7 linked regions of the Homo sapiens genome follow. The protein of the gene in region 2 purifies or fractionates together with the protein of the main gene of each other region. This does not show direct contact. Each region holds a gene or a part of one and is shown on either strand. Other genes may lie near its edges. The genes, in order: ZYG11B, AP3S1, CAMKV, DHRS2, AP3M1, AGO3 and AGK.

Evidence for each region.
Region 1: the proteins of AP3S1 (region 2) and ZYG11B purify together in Homo sapiens (affinity purification with mass spectrometry; 2 studies listed by BioGRID and IntAct, with this or other methods). This does not show direct contact.
Region 3: the proteins of AP3S1 (region 2) and CAMKV purify together in Homo sapiens (co-immunoprecipitation; one large-scale study listed by IntAct). This does not show direct contact.
Region 4: the proteins of AP3S1 (region 2) and DHRS2 purify together in Homo sapiens (affinity purification with mass spectrometry; 2 studies listed by BioGRID and IntAct, with this or other methods). This does not show direct contact.
Region 5: the proteins of AP3S1 (region 2) and AP3M1 purify together in Homo sapiens (co-immunoprecipitation; 5 studies listed by BioGRID and IntAct, with this or other methods). This does not show direct contact.
Region 6: the proteins of AP3S1 (region 2) and AGO3 purify together in Homo sapiens (affinity purification with mass spectrometry; 3 studies listed by BioGRID and IntAct, with this or other methods). This does not show direct contact.
Region 7: the proteins of AP3S1 (region 2) and AGK purify together in Homo sapiens (affinity purification with mass spectrometry; 2 studies listed by BioGRID and IntAct, with this or other methods). This does not show direct contact.

Annotation. Positions count from the first base shown.
Region 1 is NC_000001.11:52,816,343-52,820,472, forward strand, and holds part of ZYG11B (protein zyg-11 homolog B), read left to right. Parts: intron 1-189; coding exon 190-287; intron 288-4,130. UniProt on the Homo sapiens protein: Serves as substrate adapter subunit in the E3 ubiquitin ligase complex ZYG11B-CUL2-Elongin BC. Acts to target substrates bearing N-terminal degrons for proteasomal degradation with the first four residues of substrates being the key recognition elements.
Region 2 is NC_000005.10:115,869,135-115,873,264, reverse strand, and holds part of AP3S1 (AP-3 complex subunit sigma-1), read right to left. Parts: intron 3,249-4,130; coding exon 3,137-3,248; intron 1-3,136. UniProt on the Homo sapiens protein: Part of the AP-3 complex, an adaptor-related complex which is not clathrin-associated. The complex is associated with the Golgi region as well as more peripheral structures.
Region 3 is NC_000003.12:49,863,130-49,867,259, forward strand, and holds part of CAMKV (caM kinase-like vesicle-associated protein), read right to left. Parts: intron 532-4,130; exon of another isoform or gene 246-531; intron 1-245. UniProt on the Homo sapiens protein: Does not appear to have detectable kinase activity.
Region 4 is NC_000014.9:23,639,234-23,643,251, forward strand, and holds part of DHRS2 (dehydrogenase/reductase SDR family member 2, mitochondrial), read left to right. Parts: coding exon 1-123; intron 124-560; coding exon 561-662; intron 663-1,041; exon of another isoform or gene 1,042-1,198; intron 1,199-1,988; exon of another isoform or gene 1,989-2,414; intron 2,415-2,432; coding exon of another isoform or gene 2,433-2,459; exon of another isoform or gene 2,460-3,205; intron 3,206-3,918; coding exon 3,919-3,986; intron 3,987-4,018. UniProt on the Homo sapiens protein: NADPH-dependent oxidoreductase which catalyzes the reduction of dicarbonyl compounds. Displays reductase activity in vitro with 3,4-hexanedione, 2,3-heptanedione and 1-phenyl-1,2-propanedione as substrates.
Region 5 is NC_000010.11:74,126,345-74,130,474, reverse strand, and holds part of AP3M1 (AP-3 complex subunit mu-1), read left to right. Parts: intron 1-482; coding exon 483-568; intron 569-1,233; coding exon 1,234-1,367; intron 1,368-4,119; coding exon 4,120-4,130. UniProt on the Homo sapiens protein: Part of the AP-3 complex, an adaptor-related complex which is not clathrin-associated. The complex is associated with the Golgi region as well as more peripheral structures.
Region 6 is NC_000001.11:36,066,868-36,070,445, forward strand, and holds part of AGO3 (protein argonaute-3), read left to right. Parts: 3' UTR 1-3,578.
Region 7 is NC_000007.14:141,549,504-141,554,258, forward strand, and holds the start of AGK (acylglycerol kinase, mitochondrial isoform 1 precursor), read left to right. Parts: upstream 1-1,906; 5' UTR 1,907-1,931; exon of another isoform or gene 1,932-2,115; intron 2,116-2,180; exon of another isoform or gene 2,181-4,755. UniProt on the Homo sapiens protein: Lipid kinase that can phosphorylate both monoacylglycerol and diacylglycerol to form lysophosphatidic acid (LPA) and phosphatidic acid (PA), respectively. Does not phosphorylate sphingosine. Phosphorylates ceramide.

The sequences.
Region 1 (4,130 bases), on a different chromosome or scaffold from region 2:
ACTGAGTCATGTCTGAATGCAGTCTTCTCTGAAATGGTTAAGACAAAGAAATGATATTCTATAGCTCATTTATATTAGTCTAAATATAATAGGATAAAATTTTGAAAATGAAAAGTTTAGGAATCACTGCTTTAGGAAATTACGCTAAATATGGGATGTAACTTTGATTCTTTTCTTTTGAACCTTTAGGTCCTTTAATCCATTTTTCCCATTACTTGGCTGTTTCACAACACCAGGAGTTCAGCTATGGGCAGTTTGGGCCATGCAACATGTCTGCAGCAAGAATCGTATGTACCAAAAAAAAAGAACTGTGTTTTTTTTCTTTAAGTGAAATTCTCATTTCCCAGGAAAGATATTTCTAAATTGTGTATTAAAGTGATTTTTAAGAACACTGACTTAAAATGTAAGGCCATCTTAGGTTATAAACTTAAGGTATTCTTTTTTTTTTTTTTTTTTTTTTTTTGAGACGAAGTCTCGCTCTTGTTCCCCAGGCTGGAGTACAGTGGCGCGATCTCGGCTCACTGGAACCTCCGCCTCCTGGGTTCAAGCGATTCTCCTGCCTCAGCCTCCCGAGTAGCTGAGATATCAGGCACCTGCCACCATGCCCGGCTAATTTTTGTATTATTATTATTTTTTTTTAGTAGAGACGGGGTTTCACCATGTTGGCCAGGCTGGTCTCAAACTCCTGACCTCAGGTGATCCGCCCGCCTAAGCCTCCCAAAGTGCTGGGATTACAGGCATAAGCCACTGTGCCCGGCCAACTTAAGGTATTCTTTCAGAATGAGCATGGTGTAACTAGACACTGAATAATAGTGGTGAATGAGACACTGTTCTCACCTCAAGGAATTTAAAGATTAGGAGACTACAGTGAGTCCATTTGTTGAGTAAAAGGTCTTAAGTAGATCCACTGTTTATGGTACATTCCGGTGCCCAATTCTCATTCACCCAAAATTCTGTTGTTCAAGATGTCGCTGCCAGCACCCATGGTTTCTGAAGAAGCAAAGTGTTTGAATCAGGTTCTATATTATTCTTTGAAAGCTACGATGTAACTCTTATTTATTTATTTAGAGACAAGGTCTGTCTCTATCACTGGAGCTGGAGTGCAGTGGCATAGTAACAGCTCACTGCAACCTTGACGTCCAGGCTCAGATGATCCTCCTGCCTCAGCTTGTAGCTAGGACTACAAGTGCACGTCACCATACCTGGCTTTTTTTTGTATTTTTTGTAGAGATGGGGTTTCATCATGTTGGCCAGGCTGGTGTCAAACTCCTAGGCTCGAACGATCTGCCTGCCTCTTCCTCCCAAAGTGCTGGCATTACAGGCGTCAGCCATCAAGCGTGGCCTAATTATTTATTAATATAAACTCATTCCACAAATGATTTGACACAAGAAATACACAGAACCACTTTAATAGTAAAGTGTGTATATATATGTGTATATATATATATATATATATATATATATATATATATATTTTTTTTTTTTTTTTTTTTTTTTTTTTTTTTTTTTTTTTGAGATGGAGTCTCACTTTGTCACCCAGGCTGGAGTGCAGTGGTGCGATCTCGGCTCACCACACCCTCCACCTCCCAGGTTCAAGCGATTCTCTTGCCTCAACCTCCAGAGTAGCTGGGACTATAGGCCTGCACCACCACACCTGGCTAATTTTCGTATTTTTAGTAGAGACAGGGTTTCACCATTTTGGCTGGGCTGATCTTGAACCCCTGACCTCAGGTGATCCACCGACCTCGGCCTCCCAAAGTGCTGGGCTTACAGGTGTGAGCCACTGTGCCTGGCCTACTTTTAGTTTTAATTAGAAGTAAGGAAAAATAATTTTTCAAAAATTATAGGGGCCGGGCATAATGGCTCATCCCTATAATCCCAGCATTTTCTGAAGTTGAGGTGAGTGGATCGCTTGAGCCCGGGAGTTTGAGACCAGCCTGGGCAACATGGCGAAACCTAGTTTCTATAAAAGATGTAAAAGAAATTAGCCAGGTGTTGTGGTGTGCTCCTGTAGTCCCAGCTACTTGGGAGGCTGAGGTGGCAGCATCATCTGAGCCCAGAAAGCAAGGCTGCAGTGAGCTGTGATGGCACCATGCACTCTGGCCTGGGTGACAGAGTGAGACTCTGTCTCAAAAAGAAAAAAAAAAATTCTAGGATAGAGGGAAAATAGTCAAATGTAGACTTGTAGGCCATGCATAGGGATTTTTGTGGCTCTGCTGCAAGTAAAAAGCGACATGGTTCTCCATATAAGAGGGAAACATTCCATATCCTTGTCAGGGGAGATGGGGAGGGGAGAGAATTTTTTATGAGAAGTTAACTATGAATTAAATTTCTTCTATTGGACCTTAATAGGGGACATACTATAAAGGGCCTTATATAGGATATGTGAGAGTTGTTTTTACTAATATCCTTATAGCAGAAGTAGTAACATTTAGTGAGATTTTCGCTTGGGTTTTTTTTTTTTTTTTGGAGACGGAGTCTCACTCTGTTGCCCAGGCTGGAGTGCAGTGACACGATCTCAGCTCACCACAACCTACACCTCCCAGATTCAAGCATTTCTCCTACCTCAGCCTCCCGAGTAACTGGGACTACAGGAACACGCCACCATGCCCAGCTAATTTTTGTATTTTTAGTAGAGGCTGGGTTTCACAATTTTGGCCAGACTGGTCTCGAACTCACCCGCCTTGGCCTCTCAAAGTGCTGGGATTACAGGCATGAGCCACCGCACCCAGCTCCTTCTCTTGTATTGTTTGATGAAAACTCACTGCATACCACAAAAAGGCAATGCAGTAAAAGCTCTTCTGTGTCAGATAAAGAAGAATAATTCAATGAATGGGATGTGACCGAGAAAACTGCCTTGTACCCACCTGAACTCCCACCTGGAGGCTTATCCGGTCCTTCCTACTACATTACCCAGAAGCAGAGTTGTTCACTCATAAATCGAAAACTGCCTCTTTAGCTACATTAAACTGTCTCTGCCCTAAAGTCGTTTTCTTTTTACTGTACCCACAGGTTCTGAGGACTCCCAAATTTCTTAACAGTTGATCCCATCATATTCCCAGTCTCTAATCTATAGGTTCCTTTCCTCATAACTCAAGGAATGGACCTTTCACAGCTCAGTAGGAGAAAATAAAACATAATAAGTAAATAATAGTGCATTTTTGGCTGGGCATGGTGGCTCACGCCTGTATTCCCAGCACTTTCGGAGGCCAAGGCGGGTGGATCACGAAGTCAGGAGATCGAGACCATCCTGGCTAACATGGTGAAACCCCATCTCTACTAAAAATACAAAAAATTAGCTGTGGGTTGTGGCACACATCTGTACTCTCAGCTACTAGGGAGGCTGAGGCAGGAAAATCACTTGAACTGGGAGGTGGAGGTTACAGTGAGCCGAGATCGCACCACTGCACTTCAGCCTGGGCGACAGAGTGAGACTCTGTCTGAAAAAAAAATAATAATAATAATAATAATAGTGCATTTTCATATGAGTATTTATTTTTGTCACTACTTTTAGGTATTAGAGTTATTTAGGTTTTACTCTATGGAATGACAGCCCTGAATAATTTATTTTATTTTATTTTATTTTTTTTTTGAGACGGAGTCTTGCTGTCGTCCAGGCTAGAGTGCAGTGGCATGATCTCGGCTCACTGCAAGCTCCGCCTCCCACTTCACGCCATTCTCCTGCCTCAGCCTTCCAAGTAGCTGGGACTATAGGCGCCTGCCACCACGCCTGGCTAATTTTTTTGTATTTTTAGTAGAGACGGGGTTTCACCACGTTAGCCAGGATGGTCTCGATCTCCTGACCTCGTTATCTGCTCGCCTCGGCCTCCCAAACTGCTGGGATTACAGGTGTGAGCCACCACGCCCAGCCCCTGAATAATTTATTCTAAAATGCACTGTAATTTGGGGAATATTAGAATATTTTGTCTCCAACTCAGATAGTTTAGGTTCCTACCTTGTGGGCTTATTTTGTTTATATTTAAATGGAATTCACTTCTATTTGTATTAAAATGTTTTAATGTGGCTGGGTGTGGTGGCTCACACCTGTAACCCCAGCACTTTGGGAGGCTGAGGCAGGCAGATCACTTAAGGTCAGGAGTTTGAGACTGGACTGGCCAGCGTGGTAAAAC
Region 2 (4,130 bases):
TTTGGATATGATATATTAATACCATGTTTGTTCTTTGAAAACTCCCCATCTAATCCCCTTTGGAGATAGAACTACTTTCTCATAAGAAGATCAACAACAGCATCAAAATAATAATCAATGGTGATGACTTAATCTCAGGACGCAAGCATAAAATACTTCTGATTTACCTCTAGGAAAAGACACATTTGTTTTGGTCTTTCTTAATAGCAACATTTCTCTTCAATAAGAGACTAAATTTGAAATGGTACACTTTCTCCTGTTTTTCTTCCTGTAATTCTAGTGGCTAGGCTCAGGTAAATAAAAACAGTGTTTTGGAACATAGTGTGCATGTCTACCACTCTCTTCAGTCATGGGAAACAGAGAAATAGAAAGCATGGTTCTATATTAATTTTTTTTCTGTAAAAATATAATGCTCTCTTGACATAATGATAAAATGAATTAACTACTCCCCTAGGTGGGATAAACTAAGAAATGTAAGAATAAACAAAGTTACAAGGCAATGCAATATATAGTCCTGATCAACCCTTCAATGTCATCAAAAGTAAGATTTGGCTTCTTTTTCTTTACTAGAAAAGCCTTGAGAAAGCAAAACATAACTCAGCAGTGTTTCTCAAGTAGGCCCCAGGAGGAAAGTGAACATATACCCAAGGGATCTTGGGGCACCTTTACCTCAAGCTCAAAATTTCTTTCAAGTCTCCACTTAGAGCTTTAAATATTATGAAAAATTTGTATTCTACCTCATAATATATACATGTTTACGTTCATTTCCTCACTGCCGCCAATCTTCAAAACAAAGAAGAAACATATACCAGGAATATGTGCCATGATTACCTTGTGGTTTCATGTAACTTTGATACCCAGCTCCTCCCAAAAACCCAGTTTAAGAATTACAGATTTAAGAGTAATATGGCATACAAATAGATCAATTTATCATTTATCTCCTTTTTTATTTTATTAACAATGTTTTTATTTCTATTTTTTTTGAGACAGGGTCTCACTCTGTTACCTGGGCTGGAGTGAGTGGCACAATCTCAGCTCACTACAAGCCATCCTCCCTGGCTCCCGCCTCAGCCTCCCAAGTGATTGGGACGACAGGTGCAGAACAGCATGCCTGTCTAATTTTTGTAGAGATGGGGTTGCCCAGGCTGGTCTCGAACTCCTGGGCTCAAGTGATCTGCTCAGCTTAGCCTTCCAAAGTGCTAGGATTACAGGTGTGAACTACCACACCTGGCCACAATGTTTTTATTTTTAAAGCCTTAGCCACAGTGCTAAGAATTTGTTACCTAAGTTGTCTGCTTGGGTTAATTTCTTGTCTATTCTGTAACGCCAACTAGAGCTCAAACCATGCCACCTTCTTGCTAACTTCAAAAGCCAATTTTATCTGTGCACTGGGAAGCAAGGTGCTAGAAGTGCTAGATATTTTAGGAGAGAGGAGACTGTATGAGTAGTCATCTAGAGGTATGGGAGAGTAAATGGACCGGGGAAACAGAAAATGATTCTTGCGTAGCATAAAGGACTCAATGAGCTAAGGGATCATTAATTTAAAGTGAGACTGGTAAATATGGTTACTTTTTTTTTTCCTCTAGGTATGTTCAGATGTATGGGTGTGGGCAAGGAGTTCAGTGTACACAAGGCTATATCACTACCATGATTATGAAATTTAAGCTGGATAAGGAAAGTAAGACATCAGTAAAATCAGAGTGAAAAAAATGATGGATTTTTAAAACTGAGGGTTGCAATAGGTCTAACGACTTCAAAACTGTGAAATTGAGATTATGGAGGGGTTACAGTTTAGACAAAGATAAAATCTAGAAATGGGTACATAGTGAGATGGAGTGGAGGGCAAAATTTATTGGAAGAGAGGAGTTCCAGATTTTGAAGACACCAGGATATTGGGAGAATTATACATATGAACAATGGAATCACCAAGAATTACAAAACAAGCAGTACTGGAATGAATGCCAGGGAACCAAGAACCAAAATCTATTAGGAGACAATTTTAGATGGATCTTGTGTTTCCACACGTATTGTGAGCAGAGGCATTGACTGTCTTTGTTCTGGGCTATCTTTTTAAGCATGCTTGTATATCAAACAGCCCTGGAAAATAGACAGTGTCTTCTTCCACAGCAAAGGATAGGTTTCCTTACACTCTTGGAAGAGACAGTCTTCCTTCCAAACAAGGGCAGACATGCTTAGTATCCATTATAAAAGATTCCAGTTCCCTAAACTTGGCGTTCCTCATCTGTCATTTAATCCACTGTGTGTGCAGGTATCATCTGGACCTCTTCATATCACCCTTTGGGAATTAGAGAATTCGTGCAAGCAAATGCTGTCACTTTAGCTAATGTTTTTGCTATTAGTAATAAGGTCCTTTGTCTCTGGCCCAGAAATCTCCTGCCTTCTGCCAGCATCCATGAAATTATGGCAGGTTAACTTCTTAGTTTGCAAGTAGAGCAAATCTCAGACCCTTCACAATTCTTAACAAAATCTCCAATGAAGGAGAGATGGAGATGAGTGATGACTATAACTAAATGGATAGAAGGTGGTATAGTCTGATAACATAAGATAAAATTTGGAGGTGTTTGAGAAGAAAGAATGGTCTGGAAAATGCAATGAGAAGCTAAGATTACACCTCCAGGCTCAAAGGCAGAAAGAAGCAGGAGAGAAAATGGCCACTACTTCAAAGGGTTGCACGTAGTATCATCAGGGAAGCAAGATTTAATTTAGAGCAAAATGTAAAGTAATATTAACAGAAGAGGCTGAAGATAAAAAGAAATTTGCTGATGACTGACCTTGAGTTCCAGGGACATTATGAAAGATTTTCAGGAGACAGGGAGAGGTAGGGTTTAGGGTTAGTTTTGGATACATGTGTTAAGAAACCCACGAGTCTTAAGCTCCTTGCTGTAACTTACATGAGCAAGATAAAATGTCATGATTAAACTAGTTATGATAGTTTTAATCAGATCAAATGTTTGCTTGTTTCTATGTCCTCTGACCTCTTTTACCAACACAATATCTATTATGAAATGCTTTATTTCTTACTAACATCATTTTAGAAAATTTAGAATATATAAGTTTTTAAAAATTTAAATGTCAAACTGTTATTTAAGATAGTAAGAAGCAAGTGTTAACTTACTTGAATTAGATCTAAAATGCCAAGTTCACTTTCTGAAGAATCCACACAGAAGACAAAATATAACGTTGCATAATGTCTATAAATCAGTTTGTTGTCAGATCCTCCAATTAATCTAAATGACAAAAAAATTGTAATGTTATTGGAAACAAAATGCGAATCATTTTCATTAGCTCAAGCAAACTGACAATTTGTTTAAAAACCACTTGTCAAATGAAAGGTGACATTCAATGGCAAAGTATTTAAGTGAACTTATTCAGAGACTAGGTGAATTAAGGTGGCTGTTTTCTTCAGAAACATCAAGTAAAAGAAGCCAGTGCTTAATTTCAGTTCATTCATTCATTAAACTATTCTCTGAGTAACTACTATGTGCCAAGCACTGGTAGTGGGGAAGAAGCAACAAACACACACATCAGAACATCATCAGATAGTGGCAAGTGTTACACTGACAATCAAAATACAATGATGATATATTGATGGGTTCCCTACTTCAGGCTGAATATTAAGCAAGAGTGGCATTTAAGCTGAGATCTAATGATAAGGAGTTGGCTTGGAAAAAATTTAGAGAAGAGCATTTCAGGCTAAGGTAGTAAGTACTAAAAGGACATTTCATCAAGAACAAAGTATGTATGTTCAGGGAAGAGAAAAAAGGCCAGTAGATAAGAAAAGATTAGTAAATGATAAAGTCAGAGAAGTAGGCGGAAATTAGATCATGGGGCATTTGTAAGTGCTTACTAGATTTAACTCCATACGTCACAGTAAGTTACACAGCTTAAGACTGATTATCAACCAGAAAAAAAAGAAGAATGACACTTCTTAAGTTTTGGATAGATTTACCGTCAAGATCTCTTCCAAAATTACATTGTTTTGACATAAATGCAAGAAAACTGAGCTAAGATACTAAACTCTTTCATGAAATACTTTTATTTATAATGACTGGAATTTTAGTATTTTAGAAATAATAATTTAGGAATCATTCCAAACATATTTTTCTAAA
Region 3 (4,130 bases), on a different chromosome or scaffold from region 2:
TGCAAAAAGACACAAAAGAATACATATAGTATGAGTCTATTGATAGAGTTCAAACAGGCAGAACAAACCCGTAAGGGGGATACAAACACAGCAGTAGAGCTATAAAGAAAAGCTAGGAAATAAGCAGAGTCAGATAATGGTCCCTTCTAAGAGAAAAGGAGGGGTTATGATTGATTCAGGACACATGGGGGGATTCTGGAAGACCTATTTCTTTTCTTTTCTTTTCTTTCTTTCTTTCTTTTTTTAGAGACAAGTCTCACTATGTTGCCCAGGCTGGAGTGCAGTGGCTATTCATGGGCACAAGCCCACTACTGATCAGCACAGGAGTTTTGACCTGCTTCGTCTCTGACCTTGGTTGCTTCACCCCTCCTTTAGGCAACCTGATGAGCTCTAGCTCCCAGGAAGTCACCATACTAATGCCAAACTTAGTGTAGACACCCAACTGGCATAGCGCACTGCAGCCCAGAGCTCCTGAACTCAAACGATCCTCCCACCGCAGCTGGGATTACAGGCACCCGCACCATGCCCAGCTGTTCTGTCACCCAGGCTGGAATGCAGTGGCACCCAGGCTGGAATGCAGTGGAATGATCACAGCTCATTCCAGCCTCAACCTCCTGGGCTCAAGCGATCCTCCCACCTCAGCCTCCTGAGTAGCTAGGACTGGACCATAGGTGCACACCACCACAACTGGCTAATTTTTAAAAATTTTTTTGTAGATACAGGATTTCATTACGTTGCCCAGGCTGTTCTTGAACTCCTGGGCTCAAGTGATCCTCCCACCTCAGCTTCCCAAAGTGCTGGGATTACAGGCATGAGCCACCATACCTGGCTTGGGTAAATTTTTTAAAGTTTACATACTGATGTACCCTCACAAACTCTTTTCTGGAAGAATACTGAAGGAAATAAGAGTTCTCTCCTGGGCAAAGAATTGGATGTCAAAAAGGCAGACATATCTTTTGTTTACTAATTTTCTGTGCGAATTTTTACTATTTTACTATAATGACTTCGATGAATTTAGTAAATACTGCACTCAGGCACAGTGCTTGGGGGATTCCTCAGAGGGATAATCTGGGTGGAGAGGCAAGGTAAAGCTTTGGAGGCAGCATTAGGACTCAGTAGGAAAAGATTTGCCAGGAGGTATGCAGGTGTACTGGTCAGGAAGAGCAAAACAAGCCTGATCCTGGTCCCAGCTTTCGGCTCTGCATATGCATTCATGCCCACTGGGGCCCACAGGGGACCTGGGCTGTCAGGTCCAGGTGCAAGGCCCCCAAACAGAACAGATATAGCTGGCTCAGTGAGCGCTAGGCACTCTTTCCACCTGGGGCACGGTGTCCCACAGGTCTGCAATCCTGCCAATTACAGCCCAATCCTCATCTGTAGTGCTAGGGGGGCTGACTCCAGTGTCCAAAGGAAAAGGCACTCATAGCCCATGCTCAAAGCTGGGGGTGGGGGGTTACTGACTAGACCTTCACAGATCTGACGCCAGGGTGTGCCTCCATAATACCCGGTCAGTGTGACACTGGGGCTACAGCAAGCTCTGCACTGAGGCTGCGCTGAAATTGCTCTGCCTCTGCTGACTGTGCATGTTTTCCCTCCATGCCAATTAGCACTTGCTGTGTGCAGGGCCTGAGCTAGGGCCTGGGGGTACCTAGATGCTCCCCGACCTGAAGGCACTCACAGCCTCAAGGTAGTGGAGAAGGGAGGAGGCAAAGGAGGCAGCTTGGCAAGATGAACTCTGCCAGCCAAAGTCAAAGACCAGGACCCAAACGAGCCCCATAGCCAACCCTGGCTGCTACTTGCTTCCTCCCAGGCAGAAGCCAGCCACCAGGCTGTGATTCCCAGGAGTCACAGCCCTGGAAATTCTCCCTCAGATTTGCCTTCAGCATTAGGGAACAAACTCTATCATTCCTTCATCTGGGTTGCTTGGGCTCAGGGAATACAAATGCATTTCATCAGCATTATTCCAGACAGGGTTTAAGCCATCTTGCGAGGCACAGCAGAGACAAAGGAGAGGCTTTGAAGATCGTCACTGACTGCATGTCTGCCACCATGGGCACAACCCTGCACTCCTCCACTGGGGAGAAGCATGTGGCCAGAATCCCATCCTCACAGCTGAGAGCAGAGGCATAGCCAGTTACCATTGCCGGCTACACATTTTCACACCATAACAGCTGCAGGAGGGGGCCTGCAACAGTCATCTCAGTCTGAGGGCCGTGTACTGGGCAGGAGGATGGTACCTTAGCCTGCAGTCTCCCAAGAAGGCTGGGAGGGACCTGTGCCCTGGCTCTGTTGCTTTGCTTACACCATTCCCTCTGGCAAGAGTGCCCTTCCCCCAAAAGCCTCCCGTCAGATTCCTATTTGTCACGGCAGAGTTATTTATAACATTAAAAAAAATTCAGCAACTACCTAAATGTCCAACAACAGGTGACTCGCCAGCTCAACTGTGTCCACTCAATGGTAGGAAGTGTGGGCACTGGCAAGAGCTCTGCCCACCTTGGCTTTCCTGTGGAGCAGCTGCCACATGAGCGAGGTGCTGAGAGCAGAACTGAATCTCTTCTTTCATTGTGATTTCTGACATTATAAGGTGGTTTGTGCAACACATTGTCCAAAACAATCCTGATGCTCGAAGGCCAGACTCAAAATGGCCCTTTTCTGAGATACCTTCCACAACCTCCATGCCCCACCCCCCACCCCACTCCAACAGCTCCCAGCTTTGCCAGTGTGGCGTGGGTGGGAGGTTTTGTGCATGCCTGTCCTTGATCCTGGCCCCAGCTTTCGGCTCTGCATATGCATTCGTGCCCACTGAGGTCCAGGGCTGGTCATGGGGGTCTGTCCCATGAAAGGCACAGAAAACTGGGCCTCCACCCCGTAATGTCAGCCTGGAGCCATGTCCTGAAGCCTCAAGGCTGAGATGGGAACAGATCTGTCTCCCCTGCCCCCTACTATGGCTGCCCAAATTTCAGCCAGTCACTCCTCCTCCTCCTCCTCCTCACCAGTCTAAGTATACTGGCTTGGGGCCCTGGACTTGGCCCCAGGGCAAAGAGAGGAGAAAGAGGGGCCTGGCTTTCAATTAGCACCTTGGTTCCCTCTGCCCACACCCACTCCACCATCTGCTATCCACTGTTGCTCCCTGGGAGGTTTCGGGTGTGTGCACCAAGCCCTGGGCACCTGCTTGCAACAAAGGAGACCTGGGAGGAACAGCCAAGGGACAGCTCTCAGAAAGAGAGGAGGCCAAGTGGAAGGGGTTTGTATTTTTCACCCCCATGGCCCAGACCCAACACCCAACAATGGAGAGCTCTCCTCTCAGCAACACAGGATCTGAGCTCTTCCTCAGGTACACTTAGGCCATGGAAGGGCATGGGAGCTCCACAACAGCCATTTCCCTGGAGACATGGCTCCCTCCACTCTCTGCAGAGGAACTGAACAGTATGCACTACCGGCTGCCCAGAGGGAGCTTGTGGGGAGTGCAGGCCCTGGTGCGGCCATTGCCCTCCAGCTGGCTCTCATGGAGCCTGAGAGCCAAGCACTCCCCAGTTATGGCCTGCTCCCAGGGCCTGACCACTGGACTCAGGGAATTGAGCCTCCAGCAATCCTGAGGGGTCCTCTGTTGGTGCCCTGGTGATAAATGGTCCCCCAGGGACTCTGCTGCATCTTTAGGTAAGTCTGGCCCAGGGAAAGCCCAAACGGGACAAAGGCCAAGAGGTCCGGAGGCCCCACATTGGGGTCCTGTCCCCTCCTCCGCTGAGATCATCCTGGTTCAGGCCCTACCTTTCATAGACATAAACAGAGTTTCCTGCTACCTTGGTCCCCTGCCACGTGGGGCTCCAGAGCTTGCAGTAAATCTAGGGAGGCCAGGAGGGGCCCAAGAGGCCTCCAGCTGCCTCCCAACAACTGTAGGCAACACCTCCTAATTTAGTGGCAGCTGTGAACACCAGCCTGCAGGCACCCCCTCCTCTCTGCTGCTCTACTCTCTCAAGGGCTGGGGCTGGGTTTCCTGCTGCAATGAACATGCTGAAGCCCAAGCCCTGCTTAACTCACAGCTGAGGTGTCACCCACAGGACCAGGGGAGCTGAAGACCTCCCTCAAGGTCTGTTAAGAACAAGGGCCAAGCTTCTAGACCACCATCCAAT
Region 4 (4,018 bases), on a different chromosome or scaffold from region 2:
AGCAGCCGGAAGCAGCAGAACGTGGACCGGGCCATGGCCAAGCTGCAGGGGGAGGGGCTGAGTGTGGCGGGCATTGTGTGCCACGTGGGGAAGGCTGAGGACCGGGAGCAGCTGGTGGCCAAGGTGAGGGGGCAGGCGGTGGAAGGACACAGAGAGGGGAACATGCAGAACCTTTCCTTCACTGCTTGGCCCTTGTGGGGTGGGTCTAGAATATGTCCTGAGACCATGACTGCACCCAGGCTGCCCAAGCTAACCTCGCTACCCAGAAGGTCCCTCAGGAAAGTGACCTGTTCGTGAGAGGACCCTCACCCCACCCCCAGGCCCGGGGAGAATCACTGTGGAGGAGGAGTCTGAAGGGGTGAGGGAGGTCCCCAGAGGGACTCCTGGAGCAGACCTTCCTCTCTCAGTGCCTGGCCCCAGGAGCCTGCCCTTGGGACACCTAGGTCATTTTCCTTTAGGAGCTCTGCAAGCTTTGCCTGAAGGCCTTATGACCTGGGCTGCCCTGGGAGGGATAGTCCTCCTCAGGCCATCTCCACACTCATCCAATCTCCTCTCCGCAGGCCCTGGAGCACTGTGGGGGCGTCGACTTCCTGGTGTGCAGCGCAGGGGTCAACCCTCTGGTAGGGAGCACTCTGGGGACCAGTGAGCAGATCTGGGACAAGGTGAGAGGCCTCCCCTGGGGAGGCGGCTGAGGGCCCGATTCCAGCTCTGCACTGGGCTCCAGCATGCCTGTGCCCACCAAGACTCTGTTTCCCTCCAGAGGTTATGGGAGAAGCAGGCCCTGGGTGGTAGTCCTGCCTGGCCAGCTGTCTCCCAAAATGTGCCCGGATGCTACTTTCTGGCTTGTTGGTTCTTAAATCTGGCCCCCACACTTTCTGCTTTGTTTTCTCTTCTCATCACTTTTTCATTTAATCATTCAGCAGGTATTTATTGCTGTCTGCCAGGCACCACTATTCCAGGCTCTAGGGATACAGCTGTGAATGGTTAGTCAGAGTCTCTCTGTAAGAGTCAAACATTTTTGTATGGTACACCCTTTTGTAGGGGAAGATACGGATACTGTGTTTTTCTTTGGTGACCTGTGCCTGTAGCGGAGACTGTCTCTCCTAGAAGGGGGCTCCTCACTGAGTCCCACACAAACTTGCCGACAGGACCAGATCCAGCCATCAGCATTCCGGGGGCTTAGACATCCCAGCCTGCTGTAAGTCCATTCAAGGATTCTGCTACCTTGTCCACAAGGGACCGGGAGAGACCTTGTAAAATGCCTTGAAGCTCATCTTGGGCCTAGTTGTTCCCCAGTGACTTCTGTTCCCTTCACTCTCATGTTTTGTTTTCTGTTCTCTCTGCCAGAATGCGTCGTGATGAATCTCATTCTTTCTGCTATTGTGAGCATTCACCACTCTGCCCTAAGCACTGGGTCAAAGTGTTTCCTGCCTTCTGGCCTTAGAGTGTTCTGCCTTCCCTAGATCCTGCACTCTCACTTGCCAACATCATCTTCAGGCTGGCCCCTCCCTTCTATCTGCCCTTGGCTGGGTGCCCTTGGCTACATCCTCAGAGATGATCTGAAATTTGAGCTCCCTGCAGCCCCTGCTGAGCAGCTTCCCCAGGCTCTTTAGCTATGTTGTTAATGCCTCCAAAGGATCATTTGTGATTTTATAGCTGGGATTTTATTGCTGACAGTCTCCTAACCCTCCTGAATCATTTTGCTGTTTAGTGTCTCAGTTCACAGGATCATGACTCTTTTTCTCGAAACTGTTGCAGTCCTCCCTCCTGAAGCTGAGGGCAGATGCCAACAATCTGACCTTACTTTCTCTGATTCTCCCCTGTTCTCCAAGGACTTGGCCTTCAGTGAGCAATTCTGTACCACTGGACAGAAATCATTGATGACTCGTCCCCGATCACATCTGCCATCACCTCAGAGGTGAAATTGTCACAAAATGAGTTTAGAATTTACCAGATGCTCTGCTTTCAACTAAATGTGTTTTCCGTAGGTGTCCTGTAAGGAGAATTCCTTACCACTCATCTTATTCTTGAGCCAGTTTTGAGGCCATCTCCAGGCAGACCCCCCTTCTTTCCAGCAGGTTGGGAAACCTCTGATCTGTTAAACTACCAAAACCACATCACCTCCATCCTTCTCCAGCGACTCCAGCGTGCGCCCTCTTTCAGGCTCATGGATAGTTCTCTGCTCAGAACTACTTGGCACACTGAGCTACTCTCTCTTACTTTCTAATGGGGCAGTTTTCTTCATCAAGGGAGGGAGTCTCACCTTTTCTTTGGCTTGGTTTTTGTTCCTGAGTCCAGGAGGGGTCTTACCTCAGCCCCTCACTCAGCCTGATGCACATGGAGTATTGGACAGATATCCTGTGGGCTGGTTGGGGTCTGTTTTGACCAGGAAACCCTTACAGCTAACCTAATCCTCAATTCCTTCTTATTAGGGACCTCAGGGTGGTACCCACTTCTGACATCTGGACCACTTCTTGCAGTCATTGGGGGTCATCCCCCACACTGGTAACCTGTCATCAAATGGGCCACAGCAACATTCAGCTTAAGTATTTCTCCTTCCCACATCCAAGGGATTGAGTGGGAGTGAGATTGGGGGGTGGAAAAAACAGTGAACAGTCCTGGTGAGTTGCAGATGTGGTCTCATTCCCTAGAGATGCAGGATGCAGCTGACCTGAATCAGGACAGATCCCTGCAGGAGGGACTCCTGGTGCCATGTCAGTCCCACCTGGCACTGCCCTAGCTCCCAGGCTCCGCCTCTGCATCTTTCCTTGCTACTTCCTCTTTCACTTCTCCCCCGTTCCCAGACCCACCAGACAGAGCTTCCAGAGTGTCAGGACATGTGTGACTTAGCCCAGATTCAGACTTTAGTCACAAGCAGGATCAGCATAGACATCTAGCTCCCAGCATGGCAATTCTCTGTTGTGTCTCCCTGTTTGTATTGGCTGCAGGAAAGCTCAGAGCCAAGTCTGCGATAAGCTGGTGTGTGTAGGCCCTTACAGCCTGCATTTTTATGACCAAATAATAGAATAAATGCTCAGTCCTTATCACATGCTGTGAACTGTAGGCACCAACCTCACTCTTGCTTTTTCTTATTTTTCTACACTGATTTTTCCTTTTCTCCATTTCTTCACACATAGTACCTATTTGATTTATTTTATGCTGTTGCATTGTGAGTATGCCTTAAATTCTATGGGGACAAGGTAAGAGGACAAGCAAATGAAAGCTCAGAGAGACAAAAAAGGCTCTTCCAGAAATCTCCCTTGCTTCTAGCACCTGCTTCCCCTCCATCAGGCTGTCTTCAGTCTTTCTCCAGAGGCCTCTGCTTACAGTGTGTTGTTGTTTTCTTTTTAAGAGACAGGGTCTCACTCTGTCACCCAGGCTGGAGTGCAGTGGCATGATCATGGCACACTGCAGCTTCAAACTCCTGGGCTTAAGGGATCCTCCTGCCTCAGCCTCCTGAGTAGCTAGGATTATAGGTGTGCACCACCACACCAGGCCAATTATTTAAAAATCTTGTAGAGACAAGGTCTCACTATGTTGCTCAGGCTGGTCTTGAACTTTTGGCCTTGAGTAATCCTCCCACCTTGGCCTCCTAAAGTGCTGAGATTACAGGCATGACCCACTGCCCCCAGTCCCCATTTTCTTTAAAAGGCCTGAACATTTCCTTCCTCGTGTCAGTCCTGAACAATTCACATTTTCAGGGCTCTGCTCACAGGCCTGTGACTTAGCCTGCCTGCCTATGAAACCATTAGCAAATTGGAAATACCTCTTGCACCAGTCAGAAGGGGGATTGGTTTCTCTTATATGCACATACATTGGGTCTACTGCACAAATTACAGGGCTCCAAGTGTCTTATGAGAGCAGGACTTGGGCTGACCATGTCTCTCTGCCCTCACCCATGCTCTGCTCTGATTTCAGATCCTAAGTGTGAACGTGAAGTCCCCAGCCCTGCTGCTGAGCCAGTTGCTGCCCTACATGGAGAACAGGTATGGCAGGGCGGGGGTGGGGACCAGTCGGA
Region 5 (4,130 bases), on a different chromosome or scaffold from region 2:
ACCCTGTCTCAAAAAAAAAAAAATTATATTCTACAGTGGCATACCTGTAGTCTCAGTTACTCTGGGGACCAGCTGGGACTAGCTAGTCAGACTTTATCTCTTAAAAATAAAAGAATTATTATTATATTCCAGCCAGAGTTAAGTATGGACCTTGTCCCCTGACCTGTTAATAGAGATGTAAAGCTTCAGTTAATCTGACACCCAGAGGGTATCTCTATTGTTCTAGATGTAGTGATTGTTGGGCTAGGTGTCATGGCACGCACCTATATTCCCAGCTATTTGGGAGGCTAGGGCAGGAGGATTACTTGAGCCCAGGAGTGAGGCTGCAGTGAGCTATGATCATACAACTGCACTCCAACCTTGGCAACAGAGCAAGACTCTGTCTCTAAAAACAATAAATAAAAATAAAAAGATACAGTGATAGGTCTAGTGAAGACTCATATTCCATTGATGTTATCTTCCTTTTTTTTTTCTTTCTTCAGGATCTACAGTCTTTGCAGAAATTCAGGGGGTCATTGATGCTTGCATTAAACTATCTGGAATGCCTGATCTCTCCCTTTCTTTCATGGTAAGTTTTATTCTCCTGTTTTATAGCCCCTTGAATGCCTAATACATGTGAAGTACTAAATGAAATGATAAATATTGAGATAAGTTTGCATCTTAGATTGCAAAGGATTATCTCAGAAATATTCCTAGCAGAGTTTCCTAAGACAGTCGCTTACATGATGAGCGTGGTCTTTGTGGAAAGACTAAGGGAGGTCTTTGCCTGAGTGTGCTAGAAGGGGCTTAAAATTGGCTGGCTGGCTTCTGCAAATATCCAGTATCATTTTTACTGAATAATTATTTGCTTTGCTGATATGAAAGGACACTGGTCTTTTGTATCATTTTAGAGTCAGCATGATATACTGCTAGGAACAATTAAGAGAACTGACTTCTGGTGTTGTCACCAGTTTGCTCTGACCTTAAGTCCTCTGAACCTCAGTTTTTTAATCTGTTAAAGGGAAATAATACTACTTGCCTTTTCTCCTTTATAGTTATTGAAATTCAAATAAAATAATGTACATAAAATATTTACAAACTTTAAAGCATTATGAAACTATAAGGTTGTGTAGATGTGGTCATAAACTCTTCCATGACTGCTTTATCTTCAGGGAACATATTTGTCAAGGTATCTGAGTACAGTTCCCATATTCATTATAGTCTATGAACGACTGTCTTCTGTTTTTCTGGCAGAACCCTAGGCTTCTGGATGATGTCAGCTTTCACCCCTGCATCCGGTTCAAGCGTTGGGAATCTGAAAGAGTTTTGTCATTTATTCCTCCAGATGGAAATTTCCGACTCATATCATACCGTGTCAGCTCACAAAAGTATGTTGATGCATCAGCCAGAATCTGCCATCATACATATCAAGTACAACTCACCTTTCCCTGTTTCTTTCTGAAAGTTGAGTACTTGAGGTCATCACTGCTCACTTTAACCATAGCTCACCAGGAGACCCAGTGAGAACGGGTGAAAATACGCACCTAAAATAATCCGTATACTTTGAATGTATGAGTGTAGAGTGGTACTAAGTGAGACTAGAGTAAAATCTATAGCCAAGAACAAGCAAACCATACATAACCTGGGCAAAAATTGTGGTACCGGTCCTTTGCAAGGTTATGCATGGTCAAATTATGGCACTGGTTCTTTGCTCAGGTTATGCATGGTCCATTTTGCTCTGCTTCTGAAAGCTGAGTACTTTGCAAGCAGAGCAAAACGGACCATGCATAACCTGGGCAAAACCATGAACCATTGCCATAATCTTACCATAGTCTGTAGAGTTTGTGGCCAACAAGGAGACAGACCTACCTGTAGTTCGTGAGGACATTCCCCAATTTACCTGCTTCAAGTACGTCTTCTCTGCGTTGAGTTTTTAAGGAACTGTTTAGCATTGAGGGGCCGGGTGCAGTGGTTCACTCCTGTAATCCCAACACTTTGGGAGGCCAATGTGGGCAGATCACTTGGGGTCAAGAGTTCTAGACCAGTCTGGTCAACATGGTGAAACCCTGTCTCTACTAAAAACACAAAATTAGCCAGGCGTGGTAGCGTGTGCCTATATAATCTCAACTACTTAGGAGGCTGAGGCATGAGAATCACTTGAACCTGGAAGGCAGAGGTTGCAGTGACAGATCACACCACTGCACTACAGCCTGGCCAACAGGGTAAAACTCCATCTCAAAAAAAAAAAAAATTTAGCATTGGGGATCGGAGTTATAGGTAGTTTGTTTCTTGAAAATACCAAAAGTTATTTGAGTAACATCATGACAGAACTCAAAAACAGAGAAATTATTTCTCGGCTCTTTTCTTTTCCTTTTTTTTTTTTTTTTTTTTTTTTAAGCCGGAGTTTGGCTCTTGTTGCTCAGGCTGGAGTGCAATGGTGAAATCTCGGCTTACTGCAACCTCCACCTCCAGGGTTCAAGTGATTCTCCTGCCTCGGCCTCCCAAGTAGCTGGGATTACAGGCATGCACCACCACACCCGGCTAATTTTGTGTTTTTAGTAGAGGCGGGGTTATTCCATGTTGGTCAGACTGGTCTCGAACTCCAGACCTCAGGTGATCTGCCCACCTCAGCCTCCCAAAGTGCTGGGATTACAGGCGTGAGCCACCGTGCCTGGCCTGTTTCTTGGCTCTTATCACATAGGAACTGTTTTCATTTATATAAAACATATTTTACATTATTTTTCAGTGGGATCATAATTCATTTTAAACTAGGGCCATTTGCCCCAATTGTTTTTGTTTGTTTGTTTTATGTTATTTTGTTTTGTTTGTTTGTTTTGAGACGGAGTTTCACTATTGTCACCCAGGCTGGAGTGCAATGGTGTGATCTTGGCTCACTGCAACCTCTACCTCCTGGGTTCAAGCGATTCTCCTGCCTCAGCCTCCCAAGTAGCTGGGATTACAGGCACCTGCCACCGCGCCCAGCTAATTTTTGTTTTTTGTTATTTTTTTTTTTTATTAGAGAGGGGATTTCACCATGTTGGCCAGGCTGGTCTCAAACTCCTGACCTCCAGTGATCTGCCTGCCTTGGCCTCCCAAAGTGCTGGGATTACAGGTGTGAGCCACTGCACCCAGCCACCCCAATTGTTTATACTGTTATTAAACTTCAGATTTCTGTCTTGATTTGTATACAGTTCCCAGCACAGTGGTACAAGAACATTATGCTGTACTCAGCTCCCCCTTGTGTAGATACTGAATCTGCAGTTCTAGAGGTACTGCCATCTTGGTATCCTTGGAGGACTGGTTGCAAAAATCAGCAGATGCTCGAGTCCCTTACATAAAATGGTGTAGTATTTGCATATAACCTATGCACATCCTCCTGTATACTTTAAATCATCTCCAAGTTACTTGTGATAGTACACTGTAAACACTGTGTAAATAATTGTTATACCATGTTGACTTTTTATTTTTATTGTAGTTATATTGTTATTTTTTACTTTTTTTTTTTTTTTTTTTTTTTTTTTTTTTGAGATGGCGTCTCGCTCCTTTGCCCAGGCTGGAGTGCAGTGGCACGATCTCAGCTCACTGCAATCTCCGCTTCCCAGGTTCAAGCGATTCTCCTGCCTCAGGCTTCCAAATAGCTGGGACTACAGGCATGAGCCACCACACCCAGCTAATTTTTGTATTTTTAGTAGAGACGAGGTTTCACCATGTTGGCCAGGCTGGTCTTGAACTCCTCACCTCAGCCTCCCAAAGTACTGAGATTACAGGTGTGAGCCACCGCGCCCAGCCCTAGCTAATTTTTGTAGAGACGAGGTTTCATCATGTTGGCCAGGCTGGTCTCAAACTCCTGACCTCAGGTGATCCCCTCCCAACCCTGGTCTCGGCCTCCCAAAGTGCTGGGATTACAGGCATGAGCCACCACGCCTGGCCAATTTTGTGAAATAATATTTTCAATCCTCAGCTGGTCAAATTCAAGGATGCAGAACTGTGGCTACAGAGAGCCAACTCTGTAGTACCTTATTGTGGAGTTAAAGGCAGGGTAGGATACTCTGGACAGAGGTTTTCAGGATACCTCTGGAGCTCTCCCCACACCATTAATTGTGTTTGTGCTTTTGTATCTTTCTCTGTTTCTCTTTTTAGTCTAGTGGCAA
Region 6 (3,578 bases), on a different chromosome or scaffold from region 2:
CAATTGTTTAATATTTGCAGAGTAAAAGAGCAGCTATTGCTATTTGAACCTACAGAAGAGACCTAAGACGAGCGTCTCTGTAATCTAAATTTATATGATAATGTTGTCCCAGACCCAAAGGCACACCTATTCTCAGTAACTTAGAGAAGTCTTGGAAGTTGCTTCTGAATTACAGTAAAGAAATTAAATGAAGTCTTTATCCTTAAATAGGGCCAGGCATTGCTATCAACATAGTGTCTTTGGTTTTCCCCTTTAAATAGAAAACACCAAGCAGGGCCTTTCCAGACAATGTAGTCTTTCCTGTAAAGAAAATGGTTTTGGTGTGGGATTTGGTAAAAACACTGGTTAGTTTGTAATGAAGAAAGAATTTTGGCATAGACAGTCCGACCCAGTTCATGGATACAGTTTGATCCCAGGGAGTTTAACAAAAGGAAGCTTTGGTTTTGCTAGCAACAGACTTGATCTTCTATAGTAATTAATTGCAATTAAGGTTTTCCAGGAGCTTTCTCATTTCTTAGCCCAGGGTCCAACCCCATTCCCTCTTTAAAAAAGAAAGAATAGGCCGGGAGCAGTGGCTCATGCCTGCAATCCCAGCACTTTGGGAGGCCAAGGCAGGTGGATCACAAGGTCAGGAGTTTGAGACCAGCGTGGCCAATATGGTGAAACCCTGTCTCTACTAAAAATACAAAATTAGCTAGGCGTGGTGGCAGGCGCCTGAGGCTGAGGCAGGAGAATCCTGCTAGTCTGAATTACAATAAGGAAATTAAATGAAGGATTTATCTTTAATAGAGCCAGGCATTGCTATCAACATAACATGTTTGGTTTTCCCCTTTAAATAGAAAACACCAAGCAGGGCCTTTCCAGACAAGGTAGTCTGGAACCCAGGAGGCGGAGGTTGCAGTGAGCCGAGATCCCACCATTGCACTCCAGCCTGGGTGGCAGAGTGAGACTCCGTCTCAAAAAAAAAAAAAAGAAGGAATAGGAAAAGGACTTAGAGGCAGTTGATATAGAATTCTACTGGGGGTAAATGACACTCTCAAAATACTTGGGAAAGAAGAATCACATGCCACAAGCTATAGCTTGATTAATATTTTAGCATGTTTTCCATGTTTGTATTCTAAAGTTTGTTTCCTTTGACATTCCATTATCTTACTTACTAGAGTGCCACCATTCTTATTTGTAATACAATCAGTGTTTTATGCCATTTGTGAATCACACAATTGTTCTTTTTTCCCCATCACACACACTCACACACAAACACACACACTGTTAAAAATAAAAGAGGGGAAGGATAAAACAAAAATAGATAGAATGATGATTATTACAATGTAACTTTAACATATATGAAGAGAAATTCTAACTCAGTTAAGTGAGAATTAAGATTGAAAGTATTAATGTTGCAAGTATTATCTCTAGCCATGGAATTTTTTGCTGGCTATAGAATGCTAATGTGAACAGAGTATATATCAGGAATATGATGTATTATGGCACAGTGATAATATTATTGTTGATATTAGCCAGATGTGGTGGTTTGCACCTGTAGTCCGAACTTCTCAGGAGGATGAGGCAGGAGGATAGTTGAGCCCAGGAGTTTAAAGCAAGCCTGGGCAATACAGCAAGACCCCAATCTTTAAAATAAATAAATAAATAAGAATTATTCTTGAAAGTAATATTCTAACCTTCTGCCAACCAACAGAGATCCTCATATTCTTAAAGAAAATTAATATAGCTTATGGTTTTGATAAATTGGACTCTGATTTAAACTTTAAAATGTTATGACTTTTATTCTGATACATGGCTTCTAAAATATGTAAAAAATTATATTGAATGAATTAATACTTAACCTGTTCATTTCTCTTAATTTATGTATTTATTCTGACTTTATTATACAGCTTATGTCTCACATCTGCCTTCTTGATATGTGCAAAATATTGTGTAAAAATAGTTTAAAACTCATCCCAGTTCCTAGTCAAGCGTGGGCTATAAGAGAGAAGGCTTAAGGTGTTCTTTAATGGAGGAACTTTTGAAAGATCACAAATGGAAAAAGCCTATTGAGAATTTATTGCCTTTGAGAGTAGAAAGGGCTCTAGAATATGAGCCAGAGACTTGGAATTTAGTAATAGGTCTCCCACTGATTTGCTCCGTGTCCTTAGGCAATTCGTTTAATCTCTGTGTGCCTAGTTTCCCCTTGTAAATAAGAGTGGTAATACCTGTCCTCACCTACCTCACTAAATTGTTGGAGTTCTTTTGTTCTGAGTCAGGGTCTCACTCTGTTGCCCAGGCTGAACTACAGTAGTGTGATCATAGCTCACTACAGCCTCCAACTCCTGGGCCCAAACTATCCTCCTGCTTCAGCCTCCCAAGTAGCTGGGACTAGAGGTACATGCCACCACACCCAGCTAATTATTTTCTTTTATTGCAGAGATGGGGTCTCACATGTTGCCAAGGCTGATCTCTAACTCCTGAGCTCAAGCAGTCCTCCTGCCTCAGCCACCCAAAGTGCTGGGATTATAGGCATGATCACTAAATTGTTGTAAGAATAAGATAATGTTTGCGGAAGCATTTGAGTTCTCCAAAGGAAAAGCTATTCAGACGTTCAAGATAATAGAAGAGTGTTGTGTGAAGGATTCCTTTCCAGTTTGCCTCTGTGAAAATGTCTTTGTTGTAGATCATTTTATGAAATAGGAATAAGAGAAACATAGGCCTTATCATGGTGTAGTGTTCACTTACAAACATATCCTGTTGTTTCTTCCCTGCAAGATATCCAGCACACAGGCTGAATTTTTCTTTATAATAATCCTTGGCAAAAGCATAACTTTTCAAAAACCAAATGATTTTAGTGGTGCTATGGCAGCTGCAGTTTTGAGTTAGATTAATGTGGTGAAAACCATCAAATACTTAGAAATTGACTGGGTGCGGTGGCTCATGCCTGTAATCCCAGCACTTTGGGAGGCCGAGGTAGGTGGATCACTTGAGGTCAGGAGTTCGAGACCAGCCTGGCCAACATGGCAAAACCCCGTCTCTACTAAAGATACAAAAATTAGCTGGGCACGATGGAGGGTGCCTGTAATCCCAGCTACTCGGGAGGCTAAGGTGGGAGAATTGCTTGGACCCAGGTGGCAGAGGTTGCAGTGAGCCAAGATTGTGCCACTGCACTCCAGCCTGGGCAACAAAGCGAAGCTCTGTCTCAATAAAAAAAAAAATAATAATAATAAAATACAAATACTTAGAAATTAACTTCGCCTTTGCCTTCAGGCACTTTTGCTACATGTTAGCATCAGAGGCTATTGTACAACTAGATGGTTATTCCCTGTTTCTTGGCCGATTTTTGGTACCTTTCTTTGAAGAAGAGGGTTAGATTTTAAGAAAGAAAGTGTGCTTATTTCACTCATGTCTTTGCAGAATTTAACTTTGCTTTACTTTAAAAATTCCAATCATCATGTACCTATAAAGGTTAAAATATAGTGAAAGTTTCTGCTTCATGTGAATTCAATTCTGAGCACCTGCAGGTCATATCAGGTGTCTGATGCAGTTACCTTTATAGATCGTGGCAGGTCCTTACATTTCAACAGGCTTAT
Region 7 (4,755 bases), on a different chromosome or scaffold from region 2:
GAATGCATCCTAGTAAAATGGTATTTGGAAGAGAGTAGAATTGGTATAGGTCTCCAAAACTCCAACCTACACATCTGCCTGCAGGTGTGTATTCAGATTCCCTTAATCTCCTATATTTCCATCCTTCTTCATCCTTCATCAAAGCTGACCTTTTCTTATTTGGGGAACCACTTTCATGCTGAAGCCCTAAAGCATACGCTGAGTCTGACCCTTGGAACATCAAAATCAAGTCTCAGATTTTTCTAGCCTGCAGGTGAGCAGTTCAGAAGCTTATTTCCAAACACAAACGCTTTAGATAGTTGGAAAAGAGGAACTGAAAATAATGGTCTTCCATACCCTATGACAACATTTTAGAGCTAGAAGGGTTTTTTTTTAATAGTAATGTTCTCAGTCCCCTAGTTTACAGATGGAGACTCAGGAGAGAGGGCTAGAAATTTCTTGCTACTAAACAGTGTGGCCCAATGGATTGGTGCACCCTGGCATAAGGAATATGTTTACTGCACCATAGCCTCATTGAAGGTCCCCGCCCCGGCCTTTTTTTTTTGAAGCATTCACCTAGGGAGACATAGGTAGGATGCATGTCTACACGTAGGAAATGTGCAGACTAGATAGCAAGCTCCATGGGGCAGGAACCATGAAGGGCCTTGTACCTGAGCATACCCCCAGTGCCTGATGCAGGGCCTAGTGCACACTCAAATGTTGGTTGACTGGCCGGGTGCGATGGCTCATGCCTATAATCGTAGCACTTTGGGAGGCCAAGGCGGGCAGATCGCTTGAGGTCAGGAGTTCGAGACCAGCCTGGCCAACGTGACAAAACCCCCGTCTTTACTAAAAATACAAAAAAATTTAGCTGGGCCTGGTGGCACACACCTGTAATCCCAGTTACTCGGGAGGCTGAGGCACAAGAATTGCTTGAACCCGGGAAGCAGAGGCTGCAGTGAGCTGAGATTGCACCACTGCACTAGCGCCTGAGCCACAGAGTGAGACCCTGTCTAAAAAAAAAAAAAAGTTGGCAGACTGAATGCTGGAAAGAAGAAGGACCTGGCTTTGTCCCCACACCAATCTGGTGGGCGAGTACAGAATGTAAACTGTCTGGAGGTTGGCATTGGCCTAGCTTCTCCGTTGCTCTCTTGTTCTCTAGAATCCAATCAAGCACCTGTGGCCAGAGAGCTGTGTGAAATGGAAACCAGTCCCACCAGCCCCTGATTGCACCCCCGCAATGTCTTCTCGCCCTGTTTAATGTCATGTCCAAACTCCTGGCCGCCGTGGCCTGTCTCCACCTCTCCAGCTTCCTCGCTTGGCCTGTCTCCTTAGCTCTCTCTGTCTCACCCACACTGGCCTGCAACTCGCCAGAGTGCCCCAGGCTTTTCAGCTTTTGCACGGGCCCTTCCCTCTCCAGGCTCTCTCCCCTGGATCTTTGCTTCAGCTGCTCCTTCTTGACATCCAGGTCTCAGACCAATGGCCCCTTACTCAGAAGGCCTAGCGCAGGCCGCCTAATTTCACACAGTTCTCCCCCTTCCCGCACTGCCTTCCATCACCTCGTTTCATTTTCTTCGTGGCACGGAGCACCATCTCCAATGGCCTTGTTCATTTAGTTAATTTATTTTCCGACTTAGTTCCAGGTGCTAAAACAGTGTTACCTTGGCAGGCTTCCCATCAAATATTGTTGCGCAAAGGATGGATGGATGAAAGGAAGAGTGAGCCAATAAACGAGGGAACGCCGGGAAAGGCAGCCTCAAGCCGGTGGGCCCTGCCACCCCCACCGTCCCTGAGCATCCGAGCCGGTTCCCGCCCCCGGCCCGAACTGGCCCGCGCGCGCTCGCAGCCCCGCGGCGGAACCCGAGGGCGGCGGCAGCGGTTTCCCTTGAACGAGCCGGGGAATCTGGAGGGAGCACACAGGAAAGGCAGAGCCGCGAGCTGGACCAGCCGTGGTGAGTGCAGCGGCGCCCAGGCGGGGAGCGCAGTGCGGGTCGCTGGGACTGAGCGCGCGAGCGGGGTGGGAGTCGGGATGGGGGCCCGGGGCGCTGGGCGGAGCCTCTGGAGTCGCGCTGGGCCGAGAGCCGCGGGGACCCAAGCATCAGGGGTCGTGGGTGCAGGCGGCGGCGCGGCTTGAGGGTAGGGGGTGCGGGCCTGGCCGGCGCGGCAGGGGAGGGCCTCGCGCGGATCCCGTGGTCACGGCGGGAGTCAGCTGTCCTGGGTTCGAGTCCCAGAGCTGTCGCTAACTTGTGGACCCCCCTCACTTCGTCCCTTGGGCTTCAGCATAGCCCTTTGCAAAATGGGGCCAATAGTATCAGATCCATTGATGGGTTGGTTGGTTCATTCATTCTGGCGCTTTACTAGGTTCTGGTGCTGCAGATGGATAGACGAACTTGCCCATGAGGGGTTCACTATCTAGTAAGAAAAACATTTCCACCTGGATACTCCACAGGCGTGTCAAATTCAGTATCTCCTAAACCGCACTACTTTTCTCCACAAACCTACCACTCAAATCTAAATGACTGAAATCACTATTCAACCAGTCACCCAAGCACAAAAACCTGGCTTGGTTCCTCCTCTCTCACTTACTACAGTCAATGGACCACCAACTGCTGCCAATTTCTACTTTCTAAAGCTTTCCAAATCCATCCTTTATCTTGGTTTGTTCTTTTAGGAGCCTACAGATTATGGCAATAACTTCCTAATGGTTCTCTTTAGCTTTAATTTTAGCTTCTTCCAGTTCATTTTTCATTCTGCTATAAAGTGGTCTTTTAACAGTTCAAATATGATTATATCACTCACCTGCTTAAAGCCCATTAAAGGTTTTTCATTGTCTTCAAAATAATAGCCAAAGTCCTTAGTGTGGGTTCAAGGTCTTTTCTAATCCCACCTGGTCTTCAATCCTTTATCTCTAAACCACTGTTTCTCAAAGTCTGGTATAGTGGTGACCTCCATTGCAACCAACATGGGAGTACTTGTTAACAAGTGAAGATGACAGCTTAATTCCAGAACAAATGAGACTCTTGCGGGAAGGGGCAGTTCCCAGGATTCTGTGTTTTTAACAAGTTCTGCACTAAAGGTTGAGAACCCCTGTTCTAGACACTCCAATTTTTACTCCGCTGTTGATGAGATTCAGGACACACTGCCGCAAAATATGACTCGTTGGCATTAGAGGAAACAACTGAAGCAGGAAAGTCACTTTGTGTCTTCCCACTTTTCTCCCCTGAAGCAGGCCATAAAAGAATTGTTTGACCTTCTTCTGTATAAGACCCTTCAGTGAGAGGTGCTCATCCTGTAAGTATAGGATCGAGGAAAGGAATGCCCTTATCTTTGAAGACACAGGTACACAGAGAAGAATCAGAACAAATAGGCCTTGCTAAATTCTCCCCAGCGTATTACTGTTAGATCATACCCCCTTTTTCCAGTCTCAGCCATGAACCTAATTCTCCCCTCAACTATCTACGTATGTTTCTCTCAACACACTTTACTGTCTTTTATGCCTTTGTACACTCTCAGTTTGGGCTACTGTAAAAAAAAAATAGCAAAAACTGGGTGGCTTAAACAACAGAAATTTAATTCTCACAGTTCCGGAGGCTGGAAGTCCAAAGTTAAGGTGCCAGCATGGTTGAGTGCATGGTGATAGCTCTCTTCCTCGGTTTGTAGAGATCTGTCTTCTTGCTGTATCCTCACAATGCAGAGAGACCATCTCTGTAGTGTCTAGTCTCATAAGGACACTAATCCCTTTCATGGGAGCCACTCTTATGACCCAATTATCTCCCGAAGGCTCTATCTCCTAATACCATCTCAATGGGGATAGGGCTTCCACATCACCATTTTTGGGGAACACAGCATTCAGACAATAGCATCCACAAAACTCCTTCGTTACTTTAGTGATTTCCTCCTCATTATTCAAGGCTCAGGGAAGACTTCATTGACTGTGCACCACCCCCTCAGCCCTAGACCAGGTTAGGTTCATTCTTGCAGACTCTCACAAAGCCTTGTGCTGACTCCTCGACATTTATCCCACTGTACTGCAATCATAATTGTATAATTGTGTTAGCATTGTGGGTTTGACAGTTGTGAGCACTTGAGAGAACGCATGAGACCCATTCTTCTCTGCCCTCACCCCCAGCACAGAGCCTACCATATAGGTGTTTATTAAAGGGCTCTTGAATGAAGGAGTGATTTAGGGCCAGATGGAGAGGAGTTCAAGAATTAGTTGGGCCTTTGGAATCATGTGTCAGCCTGACGGTGTATGGGATTCACAGGAAGATGGTCTCCCTGGCACTGGCTTCACTGCTGCTTTTGATAAGGATGTTTCTACCCTTGAGAGGAATTTTAACCAATGGGATTTAAAGGGAGTCATAAAAGAACTGGACTTTTAAGTGGAAACAGTTTTTTTTTTCTTGGTCTATATACCTCACTAACAGATAGTCATAAAAAAATTTTGCTTAAATTTTTGTTTATCTAGAAAATAAGTTCATTTTCAAAAACTTAGAAAGTACATTGCAATTTTAAAAATAAACATCACCCACCATTCCACAACCTAGAGGGATCTACTTTAAAATTTCGTTTTTGAGCCAGGTGCAGTGGCTCACGTCTGTAATCCCAGCAATTTGGATGGCCAAGGCGGGAGGATTGCTTGAGGCCAGGAGTTTGAGACCAGCCTGGGCAACATAGTGAGACCTTGTCTCTAACAAAAAAAGGAAAGAAAAAAATTAGCCAAGTGTAGTGGTATGTGCCTGTGGTCCCAGCTACTTGGGAGGCTGAGGCAGGAGA